2 linked regions of the Homo sapiens genome follow. The protein of the gene in region 2 purifies or fractionates together with the protein of the main gene of each other region. This does not show direct contact. Each region holds a gene or a part of one and is shown on either strand. Other genes may lie near its edges. The genes, in order: KHK and CUEDC2.

Evidence for each region.
Region 1: the proteins of CUEDC2 (region 2) and KHK purify together in Homo sapiens (affinity purification with mass spectrometry; 2 studies listed by BioGRID and IntAct, with this or other methods). This does not show direct contact.

The regions. Positions count from the first base shown.
Region 1 is NC_000002.12:27,088,142-27,097,875, reverse strand, and holds part of KHK (ketohexokinase), read right to left. Parts: intron 5,545-9,734; coding exon 5,428-5,544; intron 3,403-5,427; coding exon of another isoform or gene 3,265-3,402; intron 3,077-3,264; coding exon 2,942-3,076; intron 1,148-2,941; coding exon 1,075-1,147; intron 374-1,074; coding exon 227-373; coding exon of another isoform or gene 1-226. UniProt on the Homo sapiens protein: Catalyzes the phosphorylation of the ketose sugar fructose to fructose-1-phosphate.
Region 2 is NC_000010.11:102,428,159-102,437,823, reverse strand, and holds the start of CUEDC2 (CUE domain-containing protein 2), read left to right. Parts: upstream 1-5,249; 5' UTR 5,250-5,298; intron 5,299-9,665.

The sequences.
Region 1 (9,734 bases), on a different chromosome or scaffold from region 2:
CCCACCTGGGGTGGAGACATTCTACTCCTTGCTCACTGCTGAGGCCTGCACTGGAGCCCAAGGCTAGGGGTCTACTTCTTTGCTTTAACCCCCATCCCCCATCTTCAAACACCACCAAACCAGGAACCACTATTCCAATTGTGGTAGGCAGGATAAAAGGATTCTGGCTCCCTTTAAGAACCAAATTAGCTGGAAGTGGCAAAGAGAGGCTGAATGGGGCACCCACCACGTCTCCGTAGCCAAACAGCTGGAAGAGCTCCTCTCGTGGCTTCTCCACCTCCACGGACACCCGGATCTTCTGCTCTGGAGGCTGCCTGGTGTTGTGTGCGTCTATCCGCTGCAGCATCTTCACCTGCTCCGATGCGTTCCGGCCCTGGTACAGGACAGGGCAGCTCAGGACCGCTGGGCACTGCCTGGCCAATCTGCCTCATTCTTCCTGCCCCGCTGAAACTCTGGGTGAGGAGGGAGAGGGCCTCGGGGAGGCTGGGCTAGAACCCCATCCTAAATTACAACATTCAGAGCTGTCGTGGACTTTGAAGACCTTATCAACCAGCTACTCCATTCCACAGATGAGAAGACTAAAGAATAAAAGATACTGTGAAAGACCTACCATAGGTTAAATGATGGAGCTAGAACTCAGGACTTCTCAGGATTTCCTTCCACCCAGACTCCAAAACCTCTCTTGGAGTAAAGGCTCTAGTTCCCTTTATTTGGGAGCTGAGTCAGGCCCTGTCCTTCCTGCTTCCCCAGAGGTAATGGGTCAGGCCCTAAGCAGTCAGACATCCGCCAGAGGCAGAGTTGGAGGCAATGGGGCAGCCCGTAGCACAGAAAGCACAGGACTTTGCCTGGAGCCAGCTGTGCTTACGTTCTGCTGTGTGACCTTGAGTAAGTCATCTAATCTTTCTGGGCCTTAGTTTTCTCACCTGAAGACATAAGGAAAGATGGAGAGAGAATGAGGGGGTTGGGTTCATTTATCTCTAAGGTACTTCATGATTCAAAGAAACCAAGGAGGCAGAACATGTGGAGGAGGCTGGCAGGTTGAGCCCCTTGAAACACAGGTAAGGCAGGGCTTACCTCAATGTGGATCCACTTGAACTGGGTCAGATCAACCTTCTCAAAGTCTGTAGCAGACACATCTGGCAGGCTCCTAGGTCACAGGATGGAAAAGACAGAGAAGAAGGAGCATGATGGGGTCAGGCAGAGCCAGGATCTCTAACTGGCAGCTGTGGACCCTGTGCCTGCACTGCTGGCAGCATGACAGGAAGCTGGATCCACAGCACAGGATTCTCAGGCTCAGCTCCAGGGTTGTCCCTGTTACAGTCTGCTGGGGTGCCCTTTCCTGAGTTTGAGGTTGTGATTAAATTATCTCGGTAAACTGAACTGCAACACATGTCAACTGGCAAGGTCTGTGTGCCTTGGAGACTGCATCTCCCAGAATGCACTGAGAGCGCCAAGCCTACACTTCCCAGAATCCCTTGCAGCAGCACACGGCTCCCACAGGCAGAGCCCTGGGAAAGTATAAAGCCCGCGACCCCCTGCCTGGGCTGTCTGGTCCCCCTCACTTCTGGCGCCCCAGCGTTGGGGTTTACCTATGGCACCCCTGTCCTGCGTTTAATAGCTCCCCGTTGCAACCCTGAGGTCAAGGTAGCACTTGAGGAAGAGTTTGTGTTTGGCCGGTTTAGGAAAGGGGACTCCCGATAGAGGTCTGCCTTGACCCTCCTGAGCCAGAGACCTCAACTCAGCCAAAGTCCCCGCTCCACGTTCTGTAGCCGAGTCCTTCCACTTAACTATAGCTGTGTGATCTGCCCGGGCCTTTGGGAGGCAACTTCCACATTGATAAATGGGGCTGAAACCCCCAGCCCCCTTGCAGCCTGCTGCAGTTGCAGGTAATGTGTGTGAATGTGCCTGGACTGAGGCCAGTGGGCAAGAAACATTTCTCCTCAGAGCTCCTCTCCTGTAAATAGCTATGTTGTGTCCTTGATCAGGGTTACTACGGATTGTTGCTTAACAAGCATTTGACTAGGATTGCCCAATGCGAAGGTCACCTGTAGCACATATGCCTGCCTACTCACACTCACTGCACATATGAAGCCCAGGGATGGCTGCCCCTCCTCCAGGTCCGGCAGTCAGGCTGGGCCGTAGGAACAGCCTGAACCTGAGGGCTGCTGGGCTTGGGCCCTCTCAGCCATAACAGTACCTGGCACGTACTAGGTTCTTAGTACACTAAACCTCTAAAATCCTGCAGGAGGGAGTCTGCAAGGGATAAGAAGTGTCTAGGCCCATGGGGCCTCTCTTGAGTGGCCTGGGACCCTGAAGGGAGGGATAGCCCCTTCCCCCAGGTCAGCACCATGTTAGATGACCCTGATCTGCTGACCCCATGTTTCCTTTCCCCTCCTTCAGCAATGGCTGTGAATGGTGTGTGGCCTGGCTTCATCATGCTGGAAACTTTGGGGGGCTGATCTCTTTTACACACCCAAACCCCAGCTCCTTGGTGCCATGCTGCAGGCTGGCAACTCTGGGGCTGACTTTGGAAATCCCAGTGGGCACCCCCCCACAGCCCTTCTTAAGAAGGGTTGAATCCCATCTCCCACCCTTCTGTCCTGAGAACAGTTTCCCCGCACCCACAGCCAAGCTGCTGATTAACGATTTAATAATTATGGAGGAATCACTTAATAAATTACAGTTTATATAGGCCTGCCTGCCCTTCTTTGGTGTTGACCAAGGCCAAGTCACCAGGCACAGCAAAGCCCATCCCTTCCCACCTCACTTTTCCCCTAATTGAAAGCAATTAGGAAATCACTGGACATTTTGGCAGGGGAGCAACTTCTGGTACACAGAAGCCACAGAGGGGGGCAGTTGGGATGCCCATGGTGGCGAGTGAGGGAACTGATTGAGCCAACTGATTGGTGGGTTGTAGCAGGGCGAGGCCCGGGGGCCTTACGTGTCATGGAGCACAATGGTACGGTTGCCATTGGAGTTGTTGATGATGCAGCAGGAGCTGGGGGTGTCCCCCTTGCTCTGCCAGGCCACCTGAGACACGTCCACGCCCCGCCGCCTGAAGTCGGCCACCAGGAAGCTTAGGGTGGAGGCCGGGCCAGGAAAAGGGCAAGGAGACACAGATTAGAGCCTGGAAGTGGTCTGGACCTCCAAAAGGAGTGGGGAGAGGGTGCTGGAGCACACGAGCCTCTAAGAGAAGAAGAGTCCTGTTCTGGGAGTTTTGGTGGCGGCGGCAGCAGCTGGCAAGGCACAGACAGTTGTACAAACCTGTCATAGTATAGGATGGTGCGGCTACCACTGGCCTCGTTGATGATGACCGTGGCGATGGGGACGGAGCCTGTGGTCTGAAAGACTGTGTAGCGTAGGTCCACAGAATAGCGGCGGAGGTCATCCAGGACAAAACTGCTAGGGCGGAGTAACCCGAAGGGGGTGCAGTTCGACAAGGGTTTTGGGGACTGGAGGGTAGCTGGCAGGGCCACTAGGGACCCTGAAAGGCAGGGGTGCAAGCAAAGGGGGCTGGGAGAGAACTGGGAATCACAGTCTTGCCACAGGCAGTGCAACAGGGCAGGAGATGCAGGAGTGCAGAGCCTGGAGCTCAGAGAGAGAAACACTAAGGGCCATCCTTTTAGGTCTTGGCTGAAGCATGCTCCGATCCTGACTCTGTTTTTCAGTCCAACTCATGCTGGAAAGGATTTGCTCCTGTTCATAAAGCTAGACAGGACCCTAGAACCTGTACACTGTTTGAACCAAGCATGTGGGGGCACCGTGGCTTGTTTCCTGCAATGCCCAAACAGGATTAATAATTAATCTCCAAGGCAATACTTTGCCCCCAGCTGTCCTCCACAAGCTCATCCAGGGTGCTGTCCTCTCTCAGTCCCTCCCAGTCCTAATGCTGTGATTCCTCTCACTCTCTGCCTGCCTCCAGGAGGCCCAGCCTGGAAGTGGTGCTGCCTTGGTGAGCCAGCTCACTGCTTTGTCCTCCTGCAGCCAGGTGAACCCTCCTGGGCAATCAGCTGGCTCCCCGTGCCTGATGCCACTCAGTATGGGCCTGGTCCAGAACTCTCTCCTGGAATGCCCTCCATGCAGAGTGAGCCCAGGGGCAAGGACAAGGAGGTCAGCCCCAGCCCTTCCAGCCCTCTATGGACAGGCATTGTTCTGTGCTCAAGAACTGGCAATTATGCCCAGCAGTCCAGCCACCATCCTGGCTTTTCTCACCTGGCCAGAGCCCGCTTTCAGCAACACCAAAGCTGGATAATACAGATTTGCATAAAGATACCAAGTCAGGGCATCATCCCTTGACTTACAACTCCTTTAAATAGTAACTTTCCCAAAGCATTGGAAATATGGTTTGGTTTGCCAAATAACTTTCGCACCCCAGTGCCTGGGACATGGTAGGTGCTCTCTAAATGTTTGTCGAGCACATGGGGAGAATTCTGAATAAACCACCCATTGGCCTGATTGCTATGTAAAGGAGAGTCGACCATCCTAAGCCAGAGCCACAGTCCTGCCTCTAGCTCAGAGGAAAGGAGCTATTAAAGAGGTTTAATGAGTCACCAGCCCTTGGTTCTGAGCCGTCCTGTCCCATCTCACAGGGCAGATTCTCTCCCTCTATTCTCTTCCTGCCAGTTCATCAAGGCAGGGAGTTTGGCTGTAGCTCAGGTGGTTGGACTCTGCCAGCAGCCCCCTTCAAACCAGGGTTCAAAGGGCTGCCCTTCACAGGCCAGCAACCTGGCAGCCTGCCCCCGTGCCCACAGTGTGCAAAGTGTGGGCCTCACCTCCCGATAAGTGCTTGCTGAGTCGGCAGCGCCAGGGGTCAAAGGGCTCTGAGGTCCCTGCAGCAGCCAACATGGAGGGCGTGCATGAGCCATTTAGGGCTATAGCCCTGACAGCCGGGGAACTGGGAGGTGTGGGTTCTGAGCCCAGCTTTAGCATGTGGCTTCAGGGTGTCCTTGAACAGGGTACTCTCACTGCTTCAGTGAACAACAGGGACATGAGCACCAGCCCTGCCTCTCAACTGGGACAGAAACTGTGGGCCTGGACCTGGGGGAGGATGGGTACCACGTGTCCCTAACTGCCTTCTGCCTCAAGCATGGCCAGGATAAGGGACTTAAGATAAGGCAAAGGCACATCCACCGCAGAGTCTGCAGGAAGCAAGGAAGGAGAAAGGAAGAGGCTGAAGCAGGCTCCAGAAGTGTCCAGGAAACAAGCTGTGGCAAGGAAAGCTTCACAGGGGCAGCATCAGCCCCCGAACCGCAGAGAGGCCACGCCAAGGCAGGGCTGGGCGTCTGGTGCTCCGCCATGCCCCCTCCCCGCGTTTCTGCTGGACACAACCCATTTCTAATCCCCCATCCACCCAGGGTGGATACATCCTTCTTCTCCCACAATGATGCAGGCAGGCCTTCCCCAGTGGGCTCTCCCTCCTGGACTTACTCAGCAACATGGCCAGGAGCCATTGAGCCCATGAAGGCACAGGGGGCTCCGAGCAGGGAGAGAACGGTGCAGGAGTTGGACGCGTTGCCTCCGCGCTGCCATCTCTGGGACAAACACCTGCAAAGCACAGGGAGGGTCCCTGCAGCCCCAGCAGGCTGATCCCAAGCACAGTCTCCTGTATAGGGGCCTACAGAATGTAACAGCTGGGGACTCCTCTCAGAAAGCATCTAGGCCGACGTCTCACTTTGTACCCGGGGCAGCCGAGGCCGGCCAAGGGAAGGAGCTTGGCTGAGAGCGGTGTCTACCTCCCCAGCCCAGGCTAAATTCAAGCTGACAGCAGTTCCTTTCAATATTTCCATCTGTTCCTAGGGCAACAGGAAACCACTCACTTGGGTCCATCACTATTCGAGAGACCCACTAACTCCAGGTCATCTCCTCCTCACCTTTCACCCCAGTCAGAGCTGCTCCAGACGCTGCACCTTTGGCCTCCTCCTTGAGAGCTGGAGCAACTCCAAGGACCTCGGGGACTAAGTGCCTCTTCCCAAAGGTATCACATTTACACCTACCCCTGTGTTAGGAGTGTCTACTTCAATAGAAACTGCAGAGCTATAAAATCAAACGAGTAAGACAGGACAGCAAACCTGGACGTTGGTCGTTTAAGAAGTGGCAGCAGGGAGCACTTCTCCATCTTTACTAAAAACCAACCAAAAGGAAACTAACAAGACACACGTGAAGGGCTTCATTGTCATCAGCAGCAAAAATGATAACTTCCACATAGAGGGTCAACGCACTGATCCCCTCACAGTGTTACTGGAGCCCAAATGAGAAATCATTAATGAATGTTATTACCTTTGAGGTAAGAATGGTGGTGTTATTTCTATTGTGCCAGTTCCAATAATAATAATAATTGTGGCAGTTTACAATAAAAGGAACAGTACCAAAGAACCACGAATTAAGAGAAAAAACCGAACCAGAATTTTTAGGCCAAAGCATATTTGTACGCGAAACTTCAGTTTTGGGAAAAGGGGAGCACGATGTCATTAGAAAAAAAATGATAGTAGGACAGGCACAGTGGCTTATGCCTATAATCCCAGCACTTTGGGAGGCCAAAGCAGGAGGATCACTTGAGCCCAGAAGTTCGAGACCAGCCTGGGCAACCAAAGGGAGCTCTTGTCTCTAAAAAAAAAAAAAAAATTAAAAATTAGCTGGGTATGGTGGTGCATACCCGTGGTCCCAGCTACTCAGGAGGCTGAAGTTGGGGGAGCGTATGAGCCCGGGAGGTTTAGGCTGGGGTGAGCCATGATACTGCACTCCAGCCTGGGTGGCAGAGTGAGATCCTGTCTCAAAAACAACAATAACAACAATGACAAAGGATAGTAATTTTTTTGTTTTTTTGAGACAGAGTCACTCTGTCACCCAGGCTGGAGTGCAATGGCATGATCATGGTTCACTGCAGCCTCAACTTCCCCAGCTCAACTGATCCTCCCACCTTAGTCTCCCAAGTAGCTGGGATTATAGGTGTGCATCACCATGCCCCGCTAATTTAAAAAATTTTTTCGTAGAGATGGCATCTTCTTATGTTGCCCAGGCTGGTCCCGAACTCCTCGGCTCAAGCGATCCTCCTGCCTTGGCCTCCCAAAGTGCTGGGATTATAGGTATGAGCCACTGCACCCAGCTGGTCAAAGATTTTCAAGCTGGCCGGGCGCAGTGGCTCACGCCCATAATCTCAGCACTTTGGGAGGCTGAGGCGGGTGGATCACGAGGTCAGGAGTTCAAGACCAGCCTGGCCAAGATGTTGAAACCCTGTCTCTACTAAAAATACAAAAATGAGCCGGGTGTGGTGGCAGGTGCCTGTAATCCCTGCTACTCGGGAGGCTGAGGCAGGAGAATCTTTTGAACCCGGGAGGCAGAGGTTGCAGTGAGCCAAGATCATGCCACTGCACTCCAGCCTGGGTGACAGAGTAAGACTTTGTCTCCAAAAAAAAAAAAAAAAAAAGAAAGAAAAAAGAAAAAAAAGATTTTCAAGCTGAGCTTTACAGCTTTACAGAAATTTTTACGAAAAGATATGAAAAAAAAGGAGGAATCTCGAGGGATCTGACTTGATCAATAGTTAAGGACAAAGCTGATGTGGGAACCCAATTTCCTGACCCCAAAGCCATTGCTAATTACTCCGTATTTTAAAACTAAAAGTTGTTAGGCCCAAGCATTGAGGTTTCTAAGAAAGGATATAGAATTTTACTCTGGGGAAACCCTTCAAAGTCACACTGATATTTCCTGTGCAGAAATGCTCAGCTAAAGGCTGGGCGCGGTGGCTCACGCCTGTAATCCCAGCACTTTGGGAGGCTGAGGCAGGCGGATCGCCTGACGTCGGGAGTTCGAGACCATCCTGACCAACATGGAGAAACCCCATCTCTACTGAAAGTACAAAATTAGTTGGGTGTGGTGGCACATGCCTGTAATCCCAGCTACTCGGGATGCTGAGGCAGGAGAATTGCTTGAACTCTGGAGGCGGAGGTTGCAGTGAGCCAAGATCGCACCATTGCACTCCAGCCTGGGCAACAAGAGCAAAACTCCAACTCAAAAAATAAAAAAAAGGACACGTCCCAGGGGTCTGGCTGAGCTCCAGGTGGCGGCTCCCAAGAGTCCCCAACTGCCTGTCAAGCACAGAGACCCTAGGACAGGTGGGGCTGAGACACCCAGGAAGGACTGGGTCCCCACTCGGATGTGCTCCTCTGGGAGGCACAACAGTTCAGGAGCCAGGCTGCAGGGAACCAGGGCCATGGGGCTGCGGGGAAGGCATGGCCTGGAGTGCAGGAAGCATGATGGACATGGGAAGGGGCCCTTTAGAGAAGTGCCTCGCTCAGTGCCCACCTTCAGAACCTGCCCCATCAGTGTGGGTGCTAGCAGGACCTCCTTCTCCTACCTTCCCGACAGAATTAAGCTGAGAGGAAATGGGACTTCAGCTCTGACAGAAAGAGGCGCTGAGTCTTTTCCCAGGCTCTCCACGGTCCTTGGAGAACCTGTGGCCCTGGAATTTGCACTGTTGCCCTGAGATGAACCCAACTCCTCACTGAGTGCCATGTCCTGTGGCTGCCTCGACCTTGCACAGTGGGTTAGGTCTACACAGTGGCATGCCCGTGCCCCTTCCCCAGTCCCTGCACCCCTGGCAAGGGGCCCTAACCTCTGGCAAACCAAAGCAAAGGGTCAACTCCAAGAGATGGTCAACAGCAAAGGGACAGGGTATACAGGAGATGACAGAGGGCAGGGACCCTGGACTCCACACTAGGAGACTCGAGCTGCAGCTGCCACTGTGCCACCATTTAACTCCGTGGCCTTAAAAAACATCTCCAAATCTTCAGCTTCCTTATCTGTATAAAGGATTTCACTGATCTTTACACAGTTCCCATGGGCTGCTGGGAGGAGAGTATAAAATAATATATGTGATGGTGCTTTGTGGCCCCAAAGCCTGAGGAGTGTCGGGGTCTCTCACCTCAGTTAGCCTGGCAGCCATCAGCACTGTCGTGTCTTTGTGGAGTTCAGTCTTGAACTGCCTCTTATCCAGTTCTTAGCTGCGACAACTGATATAGCCCAGGAGCAATTCTCAGTGTTCTAAGCACTCACTGACTGCACCAAGAGAAAGCTAGTGTCCCGCCCCACAGAAATGCCTTCACAGCATTACAGTGTAATGGTGGGGCCCTTATCAAGAGGAAATACAAGAACCAATAAGCCGGGTGTGGTGGCTCATGCCTGTAATCCCAGCACTTTGGGGGACTGAGACGGGCAGATCACTTGAGATTAGAAGTTTGAGACCAGCATGGCCAACATGTCTTTACAAAGAAAAGCCCTGTCTCTACAAAAGAAAAAAAAAATTAGTGGGGCATGGTGGCGTATGCCTATAATCCCAGCTACCCAGGAGGTTGAGGCAGGAGAATCGCTTGAATCCAGGAGGCGGAGGTTGCAGTGAGCCAAGATCATGCCACTGCATTCCAGCCTGGGCAACAGAGCGAGACTCTGTCTCAAAAAGAAAAAGAACCAACAAATCGGCTGGGTGCAGTGGCTCATGCCTGTAATCCCAGTACTTTGAGAGGCCAAAGCAGGAGGACTGCTTGAGCCCAGGAGCTCAAGACCACTCTGATCAGTATAGTGAGAACCCGTCCCTTATACAAAATTTAAAATACAGCTGGGATGGTGACGTGCATGTGTGGTCCCAGCTACTCAGGAGGCTGAGGTGGGAGGATCACTTGAGTCTGGAGGTCAAGGCTGCAGTGAGCATGGTTGCACCACTGCACTCCAGCCTGGACGACAGA
Region 2 (9,665 bases):
TTTGAGAGAGAGACAGGGTCTTGCTCTGTGGCCCAGGCTGGAGTGCAGTGGTATGATCTTGGCTCACTGCCACCTCTGCCTCTCAGGCTCAAGCCATCCTCCCATCTCAGCCTCCTGAGTAACTGAGACTATAGGCACGCATCACCATGCCTGGCTAACTGATCGCAGTCTTAACCTGTAGGTCAAACTGTCTCTTCATACAGGAGACAAACTCAACAAAAATGCAAGGAATATTTATTGAACAGCTACTATATGCTGGACGCTGGACTAGACCCTACAGGGCTCATGAAGAGGGGTGTGGAGGATCTGTAAGAGATCATATGCACTGTTGGGGAGTTGAGAGAGGCTTCTTGGAAAAGGCATCTGGCTGGGCACAGTGGCTCACGCCTGTAATCCCAGCACTTTGGTAGGCCAAGGCAGGCGGATCACCTGAGGTCGAGAGTTCAAGAGCAGCCTGGCCAACCTGGTGAAACCCCATCTCTACTAAAAATAAAAAATCAGCCAGGCGTGGTGGTGTGTGCCTATAATCCCAGCTACTTGGGAGGCTGAGACAGGAGAATCACTTGAACCCGGGAAGCAGAGGTTGCAGTGAGCCGAGATTGCACCACCACACTCCAGCCTGGGCAACAGAACAAGACTCCGTCTCCAAAAAAAAAAAAAAAAAAAAAAAAATTAGCCAGGTGTGTTGGCACACGCCTGTAGTCCCAGCTACTCGGGGAGGCTGAGGCAGGAGAATCACTTAAACCTGGGAGGTGGAGGTTGCAGTGAGCTGATATTGCGCCACTGCACTCCAGCCTGGGCCACAGAATGAGACTCCATCCCAAAAAAAATAAATAAAAAGGAAAAAAGAAGAGGCATCTGAGAGAGGCTTTGAAGAATGTCCAGGATTCCAACAGACAGTGACAGGCAAGAGGTGTCCCCAGGAGCACTGAGGAAGGACCAGCATGAGAAGTGTGGAGCCGGAGCAGCAGGGGTTCACTAGTGGCAGGTTATGAGCAGGATGCGATGGAAGATCAGGCGTGAAAGCTAAGTGGAGGCCGTACTATAGAAGACTTTCTGGCAGGGTAAAGAGATTTGGGAGAGCCCCTGACGTCTTTGAGCATAAGAGTAGCCCGAGTCAAAGTTATTTAAAGGTTTGGCCAGTGGGCAAGATGTGGGCCTGCAGAAGCACCTGGCTGGGAAGTTGGGAGCCCAAACCATCAGCTGCCCCACGGCCTTGGCATTGATGTTGTAGCACTGCCGGGCACCAGAACTGAGTCCACAGGGCATTGCTAGAGCTCACAGCCTATGGAATTCAGTTCTCAGTGCCAGGTGGCCAAAGTTCTTTCAGCCTGGACGCTGCTCTTGCATGCTTTCTTCTGTGAATCGTCTCCCGTTCCCAGGATGAGTAAGTTGAGGCCCAGGATGGGTCACATAAGGAACTTGTGATACCAAGAGAACTCCTATTCCAGGGAGGGTCTGAGCTTGGAGCTGAAAATGGGGGCCCACAGCTAAGGAAATGGACAGGAGTTCCATAAATTCCAACAGGAATTGGAGTAGGTTAAGAGGGGAGGGGGCTCAGGGCCATGGCAGGGATCCATCTGTCGCTTCCTGCCCAGATGTGTTCCTGGTGGGGCCTGATGTGGGGCTGGAGGGGTGAGGGGCTGGGGAAAGAGCCAGAACACGCACACTGAGAAGGGCATCTCTATGCAAACCAAGGGGCTTTCTGAGCTAAAGGGAGTCCCCAAGATATGGATCCCCAAGATAGGAGCCCAGCCCAGGAGTCCTAGCTCCCCAGAAATCTCCCCAAAACCCTGAATAAAGATTTGAAGTACCTGGGATAGTGGAGTGGAGGAGAAAGAGTTCCCTGAAGCACACTTTCATTTTCTGGAGAGTTCAGCCGAGGGCTGGGTGCTCCCCTCACTCACATGGCAAAGCTGCAGCCTATCCCAGAGAGGGAAAGCCAAGCCTGCGCCTCAGGGGCACCCCATCCCGACCCCTGCTTGAATCCAGAGAGAGGGACAGCCACTTACCCACGAAACCTCCTCTCTATGGCTCCTGGGGCTGGATCTGCAACGATGTTCTCAGCCGGTGCTCCTTAAATAAGGCCCCCACCCCCGCCCCAGCCGCCTCCCGCCCCCGCCCCATGCTGGCTCTTCTGAGAAAGGAGGAAGGTGTGGGAGGGCCAGGAACCCTGCCCAGAGAGCCCTTTCTAACCTCAAGCCAGAGCGGGACCCCGCCCCCGCCATTCTTTGAAGCCTCCCCTTCCTCACCTTGGTCTCTAACTGAGTTCTTCCCACCCCTTGAGACCAGCCCGCTGGGCTCTCTCTCTACTCTGCCTGAAAAATCTGCCCTTTATGCCAAATTCAAGTCCAGTTTCTCATTTTGAAGCAGGATGATGGGGAATGGAGGTGCTAGGGGAAGCCTCAGCGTAGGTTTCTAGCTTTTCCCACCAGCTAAGGCGATCCAGGCACCCAAACACCAGCTGCAAAATTCACTGGAAGGAATGGCGGTGAAAAGGCATCCCTCTGCCTCCTTTAGCTCTGTGCCGCTTCAAGCAGTACCAAAGGGCAGTGGGGAGTCTGTTCCCATTTTGGGGAGAGAGAGACTGAGACCTGAGGGGAAAGAAAATCAGGGGCTGAAGTTCCAGCCAGCTTCAGAATCCCTCAGGGCAGGGATCCCGGGAGCCCCTACCTTACAGTATGTGTGTGTCCTTGTGTCTGTGGGGTTCCCTCTCCTCAGCCCACCTTCTGTCCTCGACCCCCCAGAACTTGACTCCTGCTGCACAGAGCTGGGACTCCCCAGAGTTTGAGTTGGGAAAGGAGGGACTCCCCCTAAGAAGTCTTTTCCATCCTCCTCCCTTGAAAGCTCAGGAAGTTCTTTCTGATACCAAGTCACATGCAGCTGCCATCCAGCAAACAGGGGATAGGGGAGAGGGGAAGGCACACAGTCAGAAATGGCTTGCAGGGGTCTTGGGCCAGAACTCAGGGCAGCTCTACTGAGGAAACTTGAAAGTTCCGGGAATGGAGGGTGGTAGGGAGAGAAGAGTCATCAGTATTGTGCAATGGACAGGGGGAAGCAGGAAAGGGGACGGGGGAGGAAAGGGATGGCTGGTCTCTGGAGGACAGGCAAAGGCCTGGGGCTGTGGGCTGCCCATCACCCCCTTCCTAGGGGCCTGCCCGGCCAGAGTTCAAAGTCGCTGTCACCCCACCCCTCATTAACCCTAGTATCACCAGGCTGGAGTGGCAGTGTTTTTATGGGCAAAGCGACGCGAATGTGCCCCTTCCTTCCCTGCTACCTCCCCCAAGCAGCCAACATCTTGCTGTCTCTGAGGCCAGAAGAGGAAGGAGGCTGTTGTGAGGACCAGAGGTGGAAGAGAAAGCAATAAGCAGTCATCCCGTTTTCTCCATAGTTTCTTCTTCTTCCTTCTCCTTCTTTTCTTCTTCTTTTTTTTTTTTTTTTTTTTTTTTGAGACAGGGTCTTGCTTTGTCACTCAGGCTGGAGTGCAGTAGCACAATCACGGCTTACTGCAGCCTTGACCTCTGGGGCTCAAATGATCCTCCCACCTCAGTCTCTGGAGTAGCTGGGACTACTGGCGTGTGTCACCATGCCCAGATAATTTTTTATTTTTTAAATTTTTTGTAGAGACGAGGTTTTGCCATGTTGCCCAGGCTGGTCTCAAATTCCTGGGCTCAAGCGATCCTCCCACCTCAGCCTTGCAAAGTGCTAGAATTACAGGTGTGAGCCACTGCAGCATAGTATCTTGGCACTGCCTTAGTCCCTAGGAGAGAGGAAAGATGGGACTTCTCTCTTGGACTGTGAGCTCCCTGAGGGCAGGGACAGCTTCCGGGTCCCCAGCACCCCACGAAGGAACTAGCACTAAAAAGGGCTCATCCCTGCTGATGGGGGATGGGAAATTTTATCCTTGAAGGGGACTCTTCCCCTTGTGACCCATTTCAGGGTTCCCAAGAGGGGAGGGCTGTGGGGCTTCCCCACAGGGCAGCACCGGGAATCTGTGGCAGCAGGAACAAAAAGAGGAAGTTGAAGTCTTGTTGGGCCCTGGAGTTCAGCTCTCCTGTCCTAGACAAGCAGCCCTGCCAACATGGGGGATGAAGGCCCCGGGGGGTAGGCATGGTCTACAGGCTGTCCATGACAGGGCTCAGGTGGATCCTCATCCTGGCACCTGCTACCACTCCACCTCTCCCAGACCACGTCCAAAATCCCAGGCTCCACCCTCCGGAGACACAGACCTGTAGCTCACCCCAATCTAGGGGAGACATTGCTGTTAAGGGAATGCAAAAGGTACAGACAGGGTGGGGAAGTCAGTACCTAAGAGACCAGCCTGGGCCACGTGGCAAAAACCCTGTCTCTACAAAAAAAAAAAAAAAAAAAAAAATTAGCTCGGCGTGGTGGCACGCGCCTGTGGTTCCAGCTACTCCAGAGGCTGAGATGGGAGGATCACTTGAACCCAGGAGGTCGGGGCTGCAGTGAGCCATGTTCGCACTCGTGAACCTGCACTCCAGCCTGGGGCTGTAACAGCAAGAAAAGAAGAAAAAGAAAGAGAAGGAAGGAAGGGAGGGAGGGAAAGAAAGGAAAATAAAGAAAGAAGAAAAGAAAAGAGGCCAGGCGCGGTGGCTCATGCCTGTAATCCCAGCACTTTGGGAGGCCGAGGCAGGCGAATCACGAGGTCAGGAGTTTGAGACCAGCCTGGCCAACATGGTGAAACCCCGTTTCTACTAAAAATACAATAAATTATCTGGGCGTGGTGGCGCGCGCCTGTAATCCCAGCTACTCGGGAGGCTGAGGCAGGAGAATCTCTTGAACCCGGGAGGCGGAGGTTGCAGTGAGCCGAGATCGCGCCACTGCACTCCAGCCCGGGAGACAGTGCGAGGCTCCCTCCCAAAAAAAAAAAAGAAGAAGAAAAGGAAAAAAAAGTGAGAGAGAGAGAGAGAGAGAGACGAGAAAAAGAGAGAGAGAAAGAAAGAGAAAGGTTTCGGGTCTCTGACGGATGAGAAGGAACAAGACGGGGATGCAGTCCTACCCACTTCGACTCCACCCCCTCTCAAGACCTTCACGCCTAACGCCTCCCTACGCGCAACAAAACTGGCCGCCAAGGGAGCCCGTCCATAGCCCTGGGACGTTAGAGAATTAGAGCAGGAGCTCCGCCCTGTTGTGGGCAACTTGCCCTTCTCAAACATGGCCGCCACGGCGCCTCTGGAAGGGAACCGCTCTGGGCCCCGCCTTTGATCTCGTTGGTGGGGCTGGGGGATGAGAGCTGCACCGCGCGGGACAAGTCGCCGGCGGCGCCCGACGGAGCAGGTGATTTCCCCTCCTGCCCCCGGCCCAGGGCTAGGAGAGTCGCGGAGAGCGCTGACCCAGGGTACCCGTCCGATGTGTTCCCCCACGGTACCCCCCCCGGGGCCCGTCGGACCCCCATCTCTGATTCTCGCCGTGGCCTGTATCAAGGCACATCCAGTTTGCTCAGGCCTGCCTCGTCATGTGTCCTCCAAGGCCACAGCCGCATCCCTGTGCCTTCGGGCCCACTATTCTGGACGCTTACGGGTGTCCCGCTAGCGGGTTTAGGGAGCTGCTGCTTCAGGGGTCGTCCATCATCGCGGTCCCACTTCCTGTGCTCGCCCTCCCTGTTTGTGCTCCCGCCTGACTTTGGATGCAGGGATCCCTTGTTCCCCTCAATGCCCTTGGTGCCTCTAAGGTCTGACTTGGGTATCAGAGGACAATGATATCCTCTGGGGCCTGCGTTATGGGTCCAGGGCCTCAGGAACCGGGCTTCACAGGGGCTGGGAGAAGCAGTGAAGACCTTCCATGCTAGACCCCTTGCTGCCTCCCTGAGAAGTTCGCTAGGACTCCTTTCACACTAGCTCCCAGGATTCCTCCTCCCACATGGCCTGCTCTCCCTCCACTTTAAGCACCTCCCCACCCCAAGGGAGCAGCATAGTACTTCTTACCCCACTCTCACTTAAATTTGTCCACAGTGTCTCTATCTAGCATCTGGAGGGTCCAGGCCTGTGCTGCCCTTGGGAAGCTCCCAGGCTAGCTGGGAGCAGTGAAGGTGGGGCAGTTAGGGTTGGCTGCAGAAAGGGAGTCCTGCAGAATGAGATTTGGAGAGGCAGAGGGACAGATGCTCTGGGCTGGGAGAGTGGTGTGAGCAAAGATTCTGAAATAGACAATATAGCCAGCCAGGCAGGAGAGGAGATTCAGAATATAGGATGGGGCCACACAATTTGCATCGTGAGAGGTGATGTAGTGTGGTGGTTAACAGTGAGGGTTCTGGATCCAGACAGCCTGGGTGTAAATCTGCCATTAACTTGCCTTGTGACCTTGGGCAAGTTACTTAACCTCATAGTGCCTTCATTTCCTTTCAGGTAAAATGTGGATAATACGGCCGGGCGCGGTGGTTCATGCCTGTAATCCCAGCACTTTGGGAGACCGAGGCGGGTGGATTGCCTGAGGTCAGGAGTTCGAGACCAGTCTGGCCAACATGGTGAAACCCCGTCTCTACTAAAAAATACAAAATAAATTTGCCAGGCATGGTGGCATGCGACTGTAATCCCAGCTACTCAGGAGGCTGAGGCAGGGGAATTGCTTGAACCAGGGAGGTGGAGGTTGCAGTGAGCTGAGATCGCACCACTGCACTCCAGCCTGGATGGCAGAGCGAGACTCCGTCTCAAAAATACATAAATAAATAAAATAAATAAAATAAAATGGGGAGAATAACAGTATCTACATTTTAGAGTTATTGTAAGGATTAGGTAAGTTAATACATGTAAAAGTGCTTAGGACAATGCCTCGTAAGCAGAGGCAATAAATGCTAATATTACCATCATCGGAGGCATTTAGGCAGGACTCATGACAGGATGACAGTCACATTTGGTAGACACCATCAACCAATGATCTCTAATTTGCGGCCCCCAAGAAGCAATGGGGTTCTGTGGGCTACATCTGGAATTTGAAATGTCTCATGGAAATCATGTTCTTACCCTGGAGAAGGGTGGCTGCTTAGGTGCTACTTAGGAAACCAGTCTGGCAGACCAGATCTTCCCCAACTCAGGGGCTATGCGGGGAGAAGTATTAGGAGCCCCTGAGCAGGAAGGATGTACTTAGGAAGGCTACCGGGGATGGGGAAGGGTAAAAGAGCTTAGAAGCCTGGGTGAAGTTTGGGTAGACCAAAAACAGGAGGAGGGAGGGAGGATGTTCCCTTGGAATACAAACTAGAGAAAAGCTTAGGGGAGCAAGTCTTTTTATTTGGGGACAGTGAAGAGTTTCCTAAAAATTCCCTGGCCCCCAGGCCTTGGCTAAAAACCCAGAAGCATGAGACACATCCCTGAGAAGCTTCTTCCCTAGAAACTGGGCTCTCAGGCCGGGCACGGTGGCTCACGCCTATAATCCCAGCACTTTGGGAGGCCTAGGCGGGCAGATCACCTGAGGTCGGGAGTTCGAGACCAGCCTGACCAACATGGAGAAACCCTGTCTCTACTAAAAATACAAAATTAGCCGAGCATGGTGGCACATGCTTGTAATCCCAGCTACTCAGGAGGGCTGAGGCAGGAGAATCGCTTGAACCCAGGAGGTGGAGGTTGCGGTGAGCCAAGATCGCGCCATTGCACTCTAGCCTGGGCAACAAGAGTGAAACTCTGTCTCAAAAGTAAAATAAATAAATAAATAAATAAATAAATAAAATTAAAAAAAAAAAAAGAAAACCTGGGCTTTCAGCCAAGTTTCAGTCACCACCACACAGGTGGCTCATGCCTGTAATCCCAGCACTTTGGGAGGCCAAGGTGGGCAGATCACCTGAGGTCAGGAGTTCGAGACCAGCCTGGCCAACATGGTGAAACCCCGTCTCTACCAAAAATACAAAAAATTAGCTGGGCGTTGTGGCAGGCGCCTGTAATCCCAGCTACTCAGGAGGCTGAGGCAGGAGAATTGCTTGACCCTGTCAGGTTCACACCATTGCACTCCAGCCTGGGCAACAAGAGCGAAACTCCGTCTCAAAAAAAAAAAAAAAGAAAGAAACTGGGCTTTCATGCAGCAGCCATGGGCCTTTGTCCCGGCAGAGGCTACCATGCAACTGACAGCCCAGGATTCGAGGGTGATGTAACCCAGGGTCGAGGTAGGTCCCTGGAGGCGGTTCTACCCTGAGGGAGCTGCATGATGGGATCTAGTATGCCTGGGCTGAGCCATTCTGCTCTTCCTCAGGGCCCATGAGGGCTCTGGCGCAGGTGGTATGAATTCCCCTGGTAGGCTGGGGCTTCTCAGTCCTGCTTTCCAAAGTGACCCCTGTGCTATGAGCAACTCTGTTACCACTCGGGACCAGGCAACTGTAAGCATAGAAGGTAGCCCTGTCCCAACCCACTTGAAAGTCTTGATATCCTCCCTTCCCCAGAGTAGCCCCTAGAATAGATGCTGAACTAGGTGACCTGGATTTAAATCTGACTACCGCAGTCAAGCCAGGTGACTCTGGGCAAGTCATTAAACACACTGAACTTCATTTCTTCATAGGTAAATTGGGGTTCAACTGTTTATTGAGTGCCCACTTCATGAGAGATGCTGAGTATACACTGGTGAATGTCAGCCCGGTGTTTAGTCCCTGCTTCATGAGACAACTGGAAGAAACATTAAACATTGTCCAAATAATAATTATGGCTGTGAAAGGTGCTGCTAGTCAGAAAACTTGCAGCCTGCATAGAGAGTGTAATATGGCAGGGCCCAAATGAGTTCTAGGTCAGGGGTGATGTCCCTTGAGGAAGAAGGGAATTATTTTATTTTTATTTGAAAATATTTTTCTTTTCTTTTTTTTTTTTTTTTGAGACAAAGTCTCACTCTGTCGTCCAGGCTGGAGTGCAGTGGTGCAATCTCGGCTCACTGCAACCTCCGCCTCCCAGGTTCATGTCATTCTCCTGCCTCAGCCTCCTGAGTAGCTGGGACTACAGGCGCGTGCCACCACACCCAGCTAATTTTTGTATTTTTAGTAGAGACGGGGTTTCACTGTGTTAGCCAAGATGGTCTTGATCTCCTGACCTCGTGATCCAACCCCCTGGGTCTCCCAAAGTGCTGGGATTACAGGCATGAGCCTCCGTGCCTGGCCTAAAAATATTTTTCTACAAAAAGAGAGATGGGGTCTTGATATGTTGCCGAGGCTGGTCTTAAACTCCTGAGCTCAAACGATCCTCTTGCCTCAGCCTCCCAAAGTGCTGGAATTACAGGCATGAGGCACCGTGCCCAGCCAAGGAAGGGAATTTTAAAATGAGACCCAAAAGATCAGAGTGACAGTAAGTGAAGGGGTGGAGGCAGAAGGGTGCCCAGGCAGAGGAAATAGTTTGTGTACCCTAGCACCTAGAAAAATGCCCGTGCTGGCTAGGTGCTCAATACATACTTGTTGACATGTTCCATTCCCATCTACATGCTTTTAACTCCCAAAAGTCTGTTTGGGAGTCAGGAGCATGTGGGTGGTAATGAATGGCTCCAGACCCATAGGTCCAAATGGCAGCTCATTGTCCCACTCAGATGATGAGGCAGAAGGCTCAGAGGGTATACTACCTTGCCATGAAAGAGTTTGAGTGTTAGCAAACTGAAAGAAAGCCAGGGTGGGGCCGGGTGCTTTGTCATGCCTGTAATCCCAGCACTTTGGGAGGCCAAGGCAGGTGGATCACCTGAGGTCAGGAGTTCAA